3 separate regions of the Homo sapiens genome follow, and regions 1 and 2 are each linked to region 3. A link means that fine-mapping ties the variant in region 3 to the plasma level of a protein whose gene starts in the linked region. Region 3 holds a variant in brackets. A gene starts in each other region. All regions are shown on their forward strands. Region 1 holds the start of PI16 (peptidase inhibitor 16). Region 2 holds the start of IL32 (interleukin 32). Region 3 overlaps LILRB5 (leukocyte immunoglobulin like receptor B5).

What was found. PIP is the chance, under the fine-mapping model, that this variant and not a neighbour inherited with it causes the effect. Protein levels are from antibody-based Olink assays in UK Biobank. Linkage for the fine-mapping came from a reference panel and not from the study's own genotypes, which makes the PIPs less certain.
Region 1: PI16 starts here. The variant in region 3 is fine-mapped to the plasma level of the PI16 protein (UK Biobank, PIP above 0.99).
Region 2: it holds the start of IL32, and the variant in region 3 is fine-mapped to the plasma level of the IL32 protein (UK Biobank, PIP above 0.99).

The regions. Positions count from the first base shown.
Region 1 is chr6:36,952,208-36,956,378 of GRCh38, forward strand. It overlaps PI16 (peptidase inhibitor 16), which reads left to right and starts at 2,531. Exons shown (of 7, transcript NM_153370.3): 1 at 2,531-2,724. The coding sequence starts at 2,554.
Region 2 is chr16:3,063,325-3,067,495 of GRCh38, forward strand. IL32 (interleukin 32) reads left to right here and starts at 2,316. Exons shown (of 7, transcript NM_001376923.1): 1 at 2,316-2,363; 2 at 2,460-2,502; 3 at 4,053-4,091. The coding sequence starts at 2,488. RefSeq lists an enhancer at 1,810-2,119.
Region 3 is chr19:54,247,907-54,252,077 of GRCh38, forward strand. LILRB5 (leukocyte immunoglobulin like receptor B5) reads right to left here. Exons shown (of 13, transcript NM_001081442.3): 12 at 4,148-4,171; 13 at 1,515-3,026. The coding sequence ends at 2,880. It overlaps LOC107987463 (a long non-coding RNA gene), which reads right to left and starts at 40. Exons shown (of 3, transcript XR_007067341.1): 1 at 1-40. RefSeq lists an enhancer at 3,588-4,171. The variant A/G (reference allele first, on the strand shown) is at 1,779.

The DNA.
Region 1 (4,171 bases), not on the chromosome of region 3:
GGTCTCGAACTCTTGACCTCAAGTGATCCACCCACCTTGGCCTCTCAAAGTGCTGGGATTACAGGCATGAGCCACTACACTCTGCCCCCGAAAGTTCTTAATTTTAATGAAGTCCAATTTATTTTTGTTTTGTTGCCTATGCTTTTGGTGTCATATCCAAGAAATCCTTGCCACATCCAATGCCAAGAAGTCCCCCTTATATTTTCTTCTAAGAGTTTTGTAGTTTTAGCTTTTATGTTTAGGTATTTAATCCATTTTGGAGTTAATTTTTTAATATACTTACGGTAAAGATTCAACTTCATTATTTCGCATGTGGACATTCCAGTTTTCTAAGTCTTCTTTAAAAGACTTGCCTTTCCCTCGTTGAACGGTCTTGGTACCCTTGTCTAAAATCATTTGACCATATGTGTAAGAGTTTATTTCTGGGCTATTCTATTCCATTAGTCTAAATGTCTGTCTTTATACTAATACCACACTATTTTAATTATTGTAGATTTGTGGTTACATATTAAAATCAGAAACTGTAAGACTTCCAATTTTGTTCTTTTTCAAGATTGTTTTGACTATTTGGGGTCCTTTGAGATTCCATATAAATTTTAGGATGGATTTTTCTGTTTCTATAAAAATATTATGATTTGCATTTCAATAGGGATTGCATTGAATCTGTAGATTGCTTCAGGCAACATTGACACCTTAGCAATATCAAGTCTTCTAATCCATGAATATAGGATGACTTTCCATTTATTTGTGTCTTCTTTCACTTTGTTTGTCAACACTTGTGATTTTCAGCGTACAAGTCTTTTGCTTCCTTGGTTAAGTTTATTGCTAAGGGCCAGGCGCAGTGGCTCACACCTGTAATCCCAGCACTTTGGGAGACCGAGGCGGGCGGATCACGAGGTCAAGAGATCAAGACCATTTGGCCAACATGGTGAAACCCCATCTCTACTAAAAATACAAAAATTTGCCGGGCATGGTAGCAGCTATGGTGGGCAGCATGGTGGGCAAGTAGTCCCAGCTACTTGGGAGGCTGAGGCAGGAGAATCACTTGAACCCAGGAGGCAGAGGTTGCAGTGAGCCAAGATCATGCCACTGCACTCCAGCCTGGGTGACAGAGCGAGACTCCATCTCAAAAAAAAAAAAAAAGTTTATTGGTAAGAATTTTATTCTTTTTATTCTTTTTCATTGCTTTTATAAATGAAATTGTTTTCTTAATTTCCTTTTTGGATTTTTCATTATTAGTGTATAGAAACAACTAATTTCTATGTGTTAATTTTGTATCCTGCAACTTTGCTGACTTTATTAATTCTAATAAGTGTGTGTGTGTGTGTATGTGTGTGTAATCCATCTTGGTTTTGTTTTTATTTTTACTTGGAGACTCAGGCAGGGACAGGTTTTCTTGTCATCTTCCAAAGCCTGTGGGTAGACTTTTTCTAGGTCCCTATTCATTGAAGAAGCAGGCTTCAAGGATCCCAGCTGTCCTCAAGAGTACTGGTTCCAGCTTCCTGCTTCATGAACCGGTCATGGCCCCTGCAAGGTCAAGGTCATTATAATGCCAGCACCTGACTGCTAAGGCTATTTCCCTTCCAATACCTTCCCCTCAGAGCTCCTGGTGCATCAGCTCATTCAACCTTCTGCTTTTCTGCTCTCTCTTGATTTAAGAAACAGACACATTATATTTCTACATAGTTAGAGCACAGGGGTCCCAGCATCCCACTTCCAAATGAGCATGTCAAGCACATGCATTCAGAGAGGATACCTGGAAGCCAAAATTTTGCCATAGTGAAAGGCCTTATTCCTGAATACAGCTAGAGTGGGGAAGACCTTGGCCTCTCCCCCCGCAGGCAAGAATGTTGCCTCCACAGGGGGCTGGTAGCCTGCTAAGGCCCAGGCCACATGAGTGGGTTGTCTACTGTTACTGAGGGCCTACTATGTGCCAGACACCATACTAGGTGCTTTACATACATTATATGTCATTGAATCTTCCCTCTAGTCCTGTGAGATAGGTACTATTATTGTCACTGATTCACTTGAGAAAGCTGCCAAAACACAGATAGCAAGGGGCAGAACCAGGATTCTGATTTAGGTTGGCTCAGCCTTTTATCAAATACATCTGGTCTTCCTCTGTCCTTTCAAAAGCCTATAGCTTCCTCATCTTGCCCACTCCTCTGTGGGTAGGGTCTGTGGTTTCCTTTCTCTTATCTATCTTCAACACACAGTGGGTGTGACCTGGGTGCAACCAGTCACAGCTCTGCAGAGGTTACTGTGATTTTGCCCCTGAAGGATCTGTCCACAACTTAGGAACTCACACAGCTTTTGGCCTGAGCCCCCGTTACCAAGAGAAAGGAGGTTTTTGCCAAGGACTCCAAGGGGAGTGCACTTGATGCTGGTCGGGACCCAAAGCGCCCAGCCCTCCCTGAGACATTGTGTGAGTCGGGCTGGGCCTCAAACACGGCCCCCACTGCCCCACCCCAGCCAGGGTGGTGCTTGTGTGGGAAGGACTTTAAATCCAGCTGCCAGACCCCTGGACGGGAGAAGGAGAGACGGCTGGCCACCATGCACGGCTCCTGCAGTTTCCTGATGCTTCTGCTGCCGCTACTGCTACTGCTGGTGGCCACCACAGGCCCCGTTGGAGCCCTCACAGATGAGGAGAAACGTTTGATGGTGGAGCTGCACAACCTCTACCGGGCCCAGGTATCCCCGACGGCCTCAGACATGCTGCACATGGTAAGTGTGGCCACGGCCCTTGCTGGCTGGGATGGAAGGGGTGCTGGCCAGGGTCTGTCACCAGGCTCTCTTACCCTGCTCCTCATGCTGAAGCTATTTCAGAATTCCTCTCCTTTTTCTGGTCAGTGACAGAGTCCCCGAGTCCCTGACATGGTATTACATTACTTTAAATGGCAAAAACCACAATTACTTTTGCACCCGCCTAATAAAATTCACAGGCCCCTATAAGCAGCCTCATAATACAGATAAGGAAAGTGAGGCTCAGAGGGATTTGTTGGGGTCACACAGCTGGTAGAGCCAGACCCAAAGCCCTGGCTTCCCACTCCAATGAGCTTTCCCCAGCACTTCCTCAAATGCATGTGCCCTCAGTGGGGGAACCCGGGAAGTTCTTAACACCTTTGTGAAAACGGTCTTTCACATGCCTGCCAAGGAGAGGACAAGAGGAAGCAGGGCAGCAGGATGGGCGTGGGCACGTGGAGTAGGAGGCAGGTGCTAAGGAGGTGGGTGACAGCAGGATCCAGAAGCAGAGAGGGCTCTGGATCACACAGTCCAAATTCTGTCTCGGTCACCTACAAGACCTATGATTCGAGGCAAGTCCTGTAACCTTGCCGATCCCGTGTCTCATCTGTAAAAGGCGGTCAGAATTAGAGCTACGTATATACCAGTGTGGATTGAATCTCACAGATATCATACTGAATGGGGGAGGAAATAAAATCTCTAAAAAATACACAGTAGGATCTCTTTACATGAAGTCTGAAAACATGTAAAAATACTATTTATGTCCTGGTGAAACACGCAGATGTAGTAAACATTACATGTACATGCACACAGGAGACAGAAGCCAGATTTAGGGTTGGTTACTTCTGTCAGGAAGAGCTATTTATGGTAGGGTGAGAGGCGGGCTGTCTATATGCAGAATTAAAGGAGATAAAGTGAGAAATTCACCCACTTCCTGCCCTCCCTGAGGGCTGAACTAGCTTGTCCCCTCCAGCCACCCTCAGGTGACTGGGGAGGTTGCTGGGCAGTGTTCAGGGACCCCTGGAGCTGGTGCCTGAGAGAACAGATGCACCTTGGGGAACATAACAGTGAGCCTGGGGCCCCAAACCTAAGTTCTAACCTCAGCCTAATGTGATCTGGCTGAAGTAACTCTGGGTGGACCCCTTTCCCTTCAAAGGCCTCTGTTTCCAGATGGAAACATGGGGCTGGCGATCCCTGCCCTGGGCGTCAGACAGGATGACACGTAAGAAAGATCTAGGAAGAGCTCTGCACACACCCAGCACTGCCGTTCACAGCTGTGCCAGCCTGCACATCGAGGAAAGGTGGACAACAAACCAGGCGTCACAGATGCAGCTCTGCCAACAGCTCCCTGATTGAGGCCTGTGACTCATTGTTGGACTTCAGTTTCCCCACCTGTAGATCCCTGATGCCCTACAGTCTTGCTGGCTGA
Region 2 (4,171 bases), not on the chromosome of region 3:
GGCCAGACACAGTGGCTCATGCCTGTAATCCCAGCACTTTGGGAGGCCAAGGCGGGCAGATCACTTGAGGTCAGGAGTTCGAGACTCCTTCATCAACATGGTGAAACCCCGTCTCTACTAAAAATACAAAAATTAGCTGGGTGTGGTGGCACGTGCCTGTAATCCCAGCTACTCGGGAGGCTGAGTCAGGAGAATTGCTTGAACCCAGGAGGCAGAGGTTGCAGTGAGCCGAGATCGTGCCACTGCCCTTCAGCCTAGACAACAGAGCGAGACTCTAAGAAAAAAAAAGAAAAAGAAAAAGTAGATGAGTGGTTATCCAGGGAAATGAGGACTGGCAGTGATGTCTCAGAAGGGCAGAATTTCTCTTAGAGGTGATAAAAATGTTCTAAAATGGGTTGTGGTGATAGCTGCACAGTTCTGTGCTTTGAATTGTACAGCTCAATGAGTGAATTGCATTGCCTGTAAATTGCATCACCATAAAGCTATAAAAACAGGGTACATACAGTCTGGGTGGATCCCAAGATGTCTTCAGATGGTGGCCTTTGAGAGTCATGAGGGGCTAGGGTTGGAGCTGAAGCCTAAAGCATGACTTTTAGCTGGTGCAGGAGTGGCTTCCTTCTGTCTCCCACTACAATTCAGAGGATACTCAGGGAAAGATCTGGACATCCTGTATGTGGAAAGGCGGTTGCGCACAGTGGAATGGACTCCTAAGTGGCAGGCAGGTGACAACCGTTGTCTACTTCACCCAAGGGAAGATTTCTCCATGGAGCGTGTTTTATAGGTTCTGTCTCTCCGAGTCCCCTTTGAGAATATAATGGGATACATTGCATCCATGCTGAATTCCTAAGCCCCAGGACCTCAGAATATGCCCTTATTTGGAAACAGGGTCTTTATGGAGGTACTTAAGGTACAATGAGGTCACTGGGGTGGATCCTACTTCTTTTTTTTTTTTTTCCGAGGGGAATTTTCATTGTTGTCCCCCAGACTGGAGTGCAGTGGCACCATCTCAGCTCACTGCAACATTCGCCTCCCGGGTTCAAGTGATTCTCCTGCCTCAGCCTCCCGAGTAGCTGGGAATACAGGTGCCGGCCACCACGCAAGGCTAATTTTTGTATTTTTAGTAGAGACAAGGTTTCACCATGTTGGCCAGGCTGGTCTAGAACTCCTGACCTTAGGTGATCTGCCCGCCTCGGCCTCCCAAAGTGTTGGGATTACAGGCGTGACCCACTGCGCCCGGCCTAGGGTGGACCCTATTTCAATATGACTGGTGTCCTTTGGAAAGGGGAAAGGGGGACAGTCACACCCAGGCAGAACGTGATGAAGATGAAGATGGCCATCTACAAGGGCAGGAGAAACCTGAACAGAATCCCAGCTCCGGGCCCTCAGAAGGACCCCACGCTGCCCACATTGACCTTGGACCTCCAGCCTGCAGATCGTGAGGGAAGAGACGTCTTCGACTTAGGGCCCCTTGTCGTGGTACTTCCTTAGTTTGGCCCCAGGAAACCATCCCAAAGGCAAGGGCGTGGTTGTGCTCAGCTGGGGGAAGGGGGCTGGGGGCCGTGAGGAGGAGGTGGGAGGCCCAGCCAGGCTGGAGGGTCAGAACCCGTGGAGCTAGAAGAGCCCGTAGGGGAGCCCCAAGATTGCTGAGACCAGTGACCTTCGGCCCCAGATGGCCTTGCCTTGGCCCAGAAGGGTCAGAAGGACCTGGTCAGCCAAGCTCAGACAGCCGGCAGGATGCCTTCCACCCTGCAGAGGGTCCTATCTTGTCCCACAGGTAGATCTACATCACCACTAGCCACCCCTCCAACGTGCACAGGCCCCTGCCCTCACGGCGCCCCTCTTAGGTCCGGCAGTTCCTGCCTCCTTCTGATCCAGAAGTTTCTCTGGCCTCTGGAGCCGGGGCACACCTCATGCAAGGACAGGGTCCAAATTCCTTTGTCCTTGGATCCCACTTGGCTGACGTCACCTTCCTGTACTCAGGGAGTTTCCCCAGCCAGCTGTCCCGAGTCTGGACTTTCCCTCTGCCCCTCCCCACTCTCAGGCTGGTGGGGTGGGGAAAGCAGCCCATTCCTGGGCTCAGAGACTCCCACCCCAGCTCAGAGGGAGCAGGGGCCCAGCCAGGGACGGACCCTCATTCCTCCCAGGGACCCCAGACCTCTGTCTCTCTCGGGTAAGTCTCCATCTCTGTCTGTCTCTGTCTCTGTCTCTGTCTCTGTCTGTTTTTCACGCACTCAGCAAGGCCTCCTGCCCTGAGAGAGGCTCCGCCCACTACCCCCCACTTTCCCCATAAAACCAGCTGAGTATTTGTGCCAGGAAGACTGCGTGCAGAAGGTGACTGTCTCAGTGGAGCTGGGTCATCTCAGGTGGGGAGTTGGGGTCCCCGAAGGTGAGGACCCTCTGGGGAGGAGGGTGCTTCTCTGAGACACTTTCTTTTCCTCACACCTGTTCCTCGCCAGCAGGCCTTGGCTCCTTGAACTTTTGGCCGCCATGTGCTTCCCGAAGGTGAGTGAGAGGCTGCGTGTGCTTTTGTGGGCATGTCTGAAAACAGACCGTAAGGGTGCGGGTGCCCTCAGTATTTCCCGAGGTGCCTGTGTGTCAGGGCTCAGTCAGGGGCACCCAGCGGCAGGAGGATAGTGATGGGGTGAGAGTGTCAGTGGAGGCGCTGGAGGTCATATGTGTCGGGGGCGCTGGAGAACGGCAGGGGTGTGGATGAGAGGGAGCACCTGTCCCAGGAGCCCTTCACAGCCCGGAAAGCCCGGGGCAGGGGTGGGGCAGGGCTCTGCTGGAAACGACTCGGAGAATGCTTCTCTCAGAGGCCGGCTCAGCTGGGTGGGCCCAAGAGCAAGGCCTGTGTGGGTCCTGGTGTCTCTTCCTCCTTTCCTGGGTTCCCTCCGACCTCCCATCCTCTACCACTGCCCCACCGCAAATGCTAGGCCCACCACACCCTCCAGGGAGCTCTTCGGCCTGTGACAATAGGGGTTTCCATGATGTGGCCTGGCTCAGGTTCAGGACAGTGACCCGGAGGACACATGGCTCCCGCATGTCGGCACGGTGCTGCTTTCACCCTGGTTCCTGGGAAATCAGGCTAGCGGGATGGGACCATCGCTGCCTGAAAGTGTGCAGACAGCTGCCCTGCCCAGAATATGTCCCCAGGCCCTGCGCACTCTGTGGGTGACTGTCACCACTCTATAGTGGGGGAAACCAGGCATGTCACCCCCGAGACTAGGCCCTTGACGTGGGGGCTCAGCGGGGATTCTGTGGGGTGCCTCTGGCCTCTGTGGATGCAGCCACGTGTCTGCAGGCAGGAATGGCCCGGGACCTGTGGGTCTGCATGTTGGCAGTCGGGAAGAGTGGCAGGTTGTAGGGTGGACCTACCTGGCACCCCAAATATTAATCAGCTCATCAGAGAGGAATGGCTGCTGTTACCTTCTCAATTGTCATGTCCCTAAACATTTTTTCCTTGGCCAACTCTCACCTGGGACCATAGTGGTTGTGGGAAACCCAGCTGAGCCAGCCTGCTCCAGGACAGTGTCCATCCTCCCGTGTGTGTACATGGGGGGGTGTGTGTGTGCAGGGAGGACACCCCGGCCCACGCAGGCCCTGCTCTTGTGAGGAGGGGTCACCTAGGCCCACGCAGGCCCTGCTCTTGTGAGGAGGGGTCACCTAGGCCCACGCAGGCCCTGCTCTTGTGAGGAGGGGTCACCTAGGCCCACGCAGGCCCTGCTCTTGTGAGGAGGGGTCACCTAGGCCCACGCAGGCCCTGCTCTTGTGAGGAGGGGTCACCTAGGCCCATGCTGGCCCTGCTCTTGGGCCTGCCCAGCTGAGCCGGCTCCTGAGAGAAGCGCTTTCTGAGTCGTTTCGAGGACAGCCCTGGCCGGTCTTTCCAGGCTGTGAGGGGCTCCTGGGACTGCTGTCTCCTCTTATCCTGTACCTCTGCCATGTGTCTCTGTGTGTGTGTGTGTGTGTGTGTGTGTGTGTGTGTGTGTATAAATTATCCTGGAGGAAAGGTTAAGGTGACACATGGAGACTGAGTGTCACCGTTATTTCCGCAGGTCCTCTCTGATGACATGAAGAAGCTGAAGGCCCGAATGGTAATGCTCCTCCCTACTTCTGCTCAGGGGTTGGGGGCCTGGGTCTCAGCGTGTGACACTGAGGACACTGTGGGACACCT
Region 3 (4,171 bases):
ACAGTCTATTGTGGGACCTCACCTTGTGATCGTGTGGATCAATACTCCTTAATAAACTCCCCTTTATATATACATCTATCCTGTTAGTTCTGCCCCTCTAGAGAACCCTGACTAATACATGTTTCTGAAATACGCAGCCATAGAAGGAAATGAGAAATGAAACTTCCTGACACAGGCAGGAAACCTCAGGAAGCAGCGAGGTCAGAGCTGAGTTGGCTTCTGGTGACTTGCAATGTCAGGGAATCACTAAAAGGGAGGTTTCCGCCTCTATATGAGACAGAGGAGAACCCCAGGGCCCTCACAGTCAGGGAGGGGTTGGGGTTTTGGGTGAAAGTGGGAAGTTGTGGCTCCTCGTCCCCTGTGTTTGTGGATGGCACTGGGGTATCTCTGCTCATTGACTCAGGTTTATGGTCAGCCCTGAGCCTCCCCCTCTGTGTGTGTGAAATAGATTCATTGTAGAGTTGTCAGACATGAGGTTCACACTGGACCCTCCCCTGCTGGTTACAGGCCTGAGCAGACTCACAAGACCCGGGCAGGTGGTGCCGTCCTCCTCTTTTCAAGCCTAACGCCCAGTGCAGCCCTGGTAGAAACCCTCTCTGGCAGATGAGGCACTGGGAGATGAGTGTCCAAGAATGAGAAGAAAGAGGAATCATCCTAATGATAAAAAGTGCTATGACTGGCTGCCTGCGATGGCTCACGCCTATTTTCCCAGCGCTCTGGGAGGCCGAGGTGGGCAGATCGCTGGAGCCCAGGAGTTCGAGACCAGCCTGGGCAACATGGTGAAACCCCATCTCTACTAAAAAGACAAAAATGAACTGGGTGTGGTGGTGCACACCTGTAGTTCCAGCTACTTAGGAGCCTGAGGTCGAAGATCGCTTGAGTCTGGCAGGCGGAGGTTGCAGTGAACTGGGGTGGTGCGCCACTGCACTTTAGCCTGGGTGACAGAGCAAGAACCTGTCTCAAAAACAAACACAGGCTGGGCGTGGTGGCTCACGCCTGTAATCCCAGCACTTTGGGAGGCCGAGGCAGGCAGATCATGAGGTCAAGAGATCGAGACCATCCTGGCCACACGGTGAAACCCCATCTCTACTAAAAATACAAAAAAAAAAAAAAAAAAAGATTAGCTGGTTGTGGTGGCGGGCACCTGTAGTCCCAGCTACTCGGGAGGCTAAGGTAGGAGAGTTGCTTGAACTCAGGAGACAGAGGTTGCAGTGAGCTGAGATCACGCCACTGCACTCTAGCCTGGGTGACAGAGTGAGACTCCGTCTCAAAAAATAAATAAATAAATAAATAAAAACAAAAAACAAACCAAAAAATCAAACACAAAGTGCTATGGTTGACAATCCACACTCACTAATGAGGATTATCATGGTCAAAAGGAGTACTAGGAATGTGTGAGACCCATCTTAGGTTAAACATGTTTAAATATTTGAGAAATACAGAGGACATTGAATTTCTGAGGCAGGATTATATGATTTTTTTTTCTACAGCAGAATGAATATTATATAAAATAATTAGAAGACATAGAAAAATCAGATTTAATGAACACAATCAAAATACTCATTCCTTCGAGGACAAGACACAGTGAAGCACCAATTATGAAATTAGAAAACAAAACAGAATTTTTTTTAGAGTGTAGCATAGAAACTTTATAAATTGCAATTTAAAGTACTTGGGAGAATAGAATGAGGAGGGGGAATGTCCTATCTATTGTAGGCGTCAGAAAGAAGGAAGAGAAAACGATGTCTAGCAATAGCCCAAGAGGTGAGTAGCTGAAC[A/G]TTTTATAGAGATGAGGAGAGACTAACTAAGGACTAGGGCGCATCCCTTTAAAATTGAAATGTATGGGCTGGACGTGGTGGCTCACGCCTGTAAGCCCAGCACTTTGGGAGGCTGAGGCGGGCGGATCACCTGAGGTCGGGAGTTTGAGACCAGCCTGACCAACATGGAGAAACCCTGTCTCTACTAAAAATACAAAAATTAGCCGGGCGTGGTGGCAGGTGCCTGTAGTCCCAGTTACTCGGGAGACTGAGGCAGGAGAATCGCTTGAACCCGGGAGGCAGAGGTTGCAGTGAGCCGAGATCACTCCACTGTACTCCAGCCTGGTGATAGAGCGAGACTCCGTCTCAAAAAACAAAACAAAACAAAACAAAAACCCTCACACAAAAACCAAGACAAATCCCCTTGACACAAGTTTATCTGTCTAACAAACCTGCACATGTATCCCTGAACTTAAAAGTGAAAAAAATAAAGGCAATATGTGTCAGATTTGTGGTGGTGTCTGCTGTTTCACCCCCATATGGAAATGTGTGCCTGAACCCCGCTTTTTTCCTTGCTTATTGTGGCTAGGATTTGTGAATGTAATTCACATTCTCAAGAATGAGCTTTTTTGGCTTCATCGAGTTTTCACGTAGCCCTCATTAGTAACTCCTCTTGTTATTTTTGTCCCCTTCCTCACACCTTCATTTGGAATAATTTGTTGTTCTTTTTCTAAATTCTTTCTGTCATTGCCAAGGTCATTAATTACGTAGGTTTTATTCTTTTCTAATTCATTCGCTCATTTGTAGTTTTCCGATTTCATCATTTAATGTGTAATATTTACATTATCATTCCAAATTTATACCATGCTCTAATTTCTGTTTCAGTTTTCTCAGCTCATTGATTTATTGAGAAGTCTGTGGCTTCATTTCAAAAATGCAAGGATATTAGTCATCTTTGACTGCAGAATCTAGTGAGTCCCAGAGTTCCCAGGATGTCCTGGTGGTCTTTGTTAGGGGTCCAGGCTGGCTGGGGTTCATTGGTGTCCACTGGGGGCAGCTCCTGTGCCTTCTGGAGTCTCTGAGTCTCCTTCTGTTGAGTATGAGATCTGGGTCCCCCGTGGGCTAGTGGATGGCCAGGGGGGCGTAGATGCTGGGTTCAGCTGGAGGTTCCCTTTCCTGGGATGGAGGAGGCTCAGTTGCCTCCCGTCTGAGGGTCAAGCTGTGCAGCTGGGCGTAGGTCACATCCTGGGGGGCTTCAGATGCAGCAGCCTGCAGCGGGGGAGAGTGAGAGGGAAGGAACGTGGTGGGGGTGGGGGAGGCCTGGGGGCCTGGAGAGGAAAGGACTCTCTCAGTGTCCATCTGTCTGTCCTCTTCTGCCTGTCTGTCCTTTGTGTCCAGGAATTCCCCAGACAGTGGGGAAGGAGGAGAGGCCATTTCTCTCCTAGGTCTGGAGTGTTTCACCGGGGCATACGTCACTGCCTGGGGGTCTTCATCGTGTGGGCTCTGCTGGAGAGAGACAGTGGTGGGGGGTGTCCTTGAGTCCCCCTGACCTCCTGGAGTCAATTTTCCTCACTGTTCCCGGGGTGATCCGATTACATCCCTTTCCTGATGGAATCTCAGGGACGCCCTAAGGCCGTGGAGGGTCTGGCCGCTCCCTCCCTGTGGTTCTGGCCTCTGCTCCTCACTCTGACCTTGCCCATTTGGCTGCAGCCTCACGGGCCTTCCCGCAAGAGCTCGCTGCTGCCTCGGGGCCTTTGCACGGCTGTTTCCTCTGCCTGCAGGGGCTCGTCCATCAGAGGATCGTGTGCCCCACTCTGTCCAGGCTTCTCAGATGACAGCTGAGCAGACAGCCCTCCCCTTCCATTCAGACTGGCCCCACTGCCCCACACTCTCTGCCCTTTCCCTGGTTTATGTTCCTTACAGCACGTTGCACTCCTGGACACGATGCATTTATTTGCATTTTGTCTCCCACCATGAGGTGAGCTCAGGAGGCGGGGGCGGCTTTGCTCCCTGCTGTGTCTGCAGCTCCCATGGGGAGCCCCATCCACAGTGAGCTCCCTGGGAACACTCGCTGGTTGAATGAATGAAGGGGAGCCTGGGGGACCGGGTCGGTTCATTTATTCCTCATCCTCCTGAGGCCTGGGGAGAGCTCTAACAACCAGACGGCCAAACAGAGGATGAGGAGCAGGAAGGGGACCCGGGAGGAGGCCCACGAGGTCCCAGGACAGCAGAAGAGAGTGAGGTCGCAGCAGGCGGGAGGCAGCGTGCTGGACAAGGAGGGGTCCACCGTGACGATGCTGAGAGCCGGGGGAAGGAGGACAGAGAAGTCCTGCTGGATTAGATCTGGCACCAGGAGGCCTTTGGTGCCCGGGACAGGGGCGGGGCCTCACCGGAGCATCCATCTCCACCCCGTC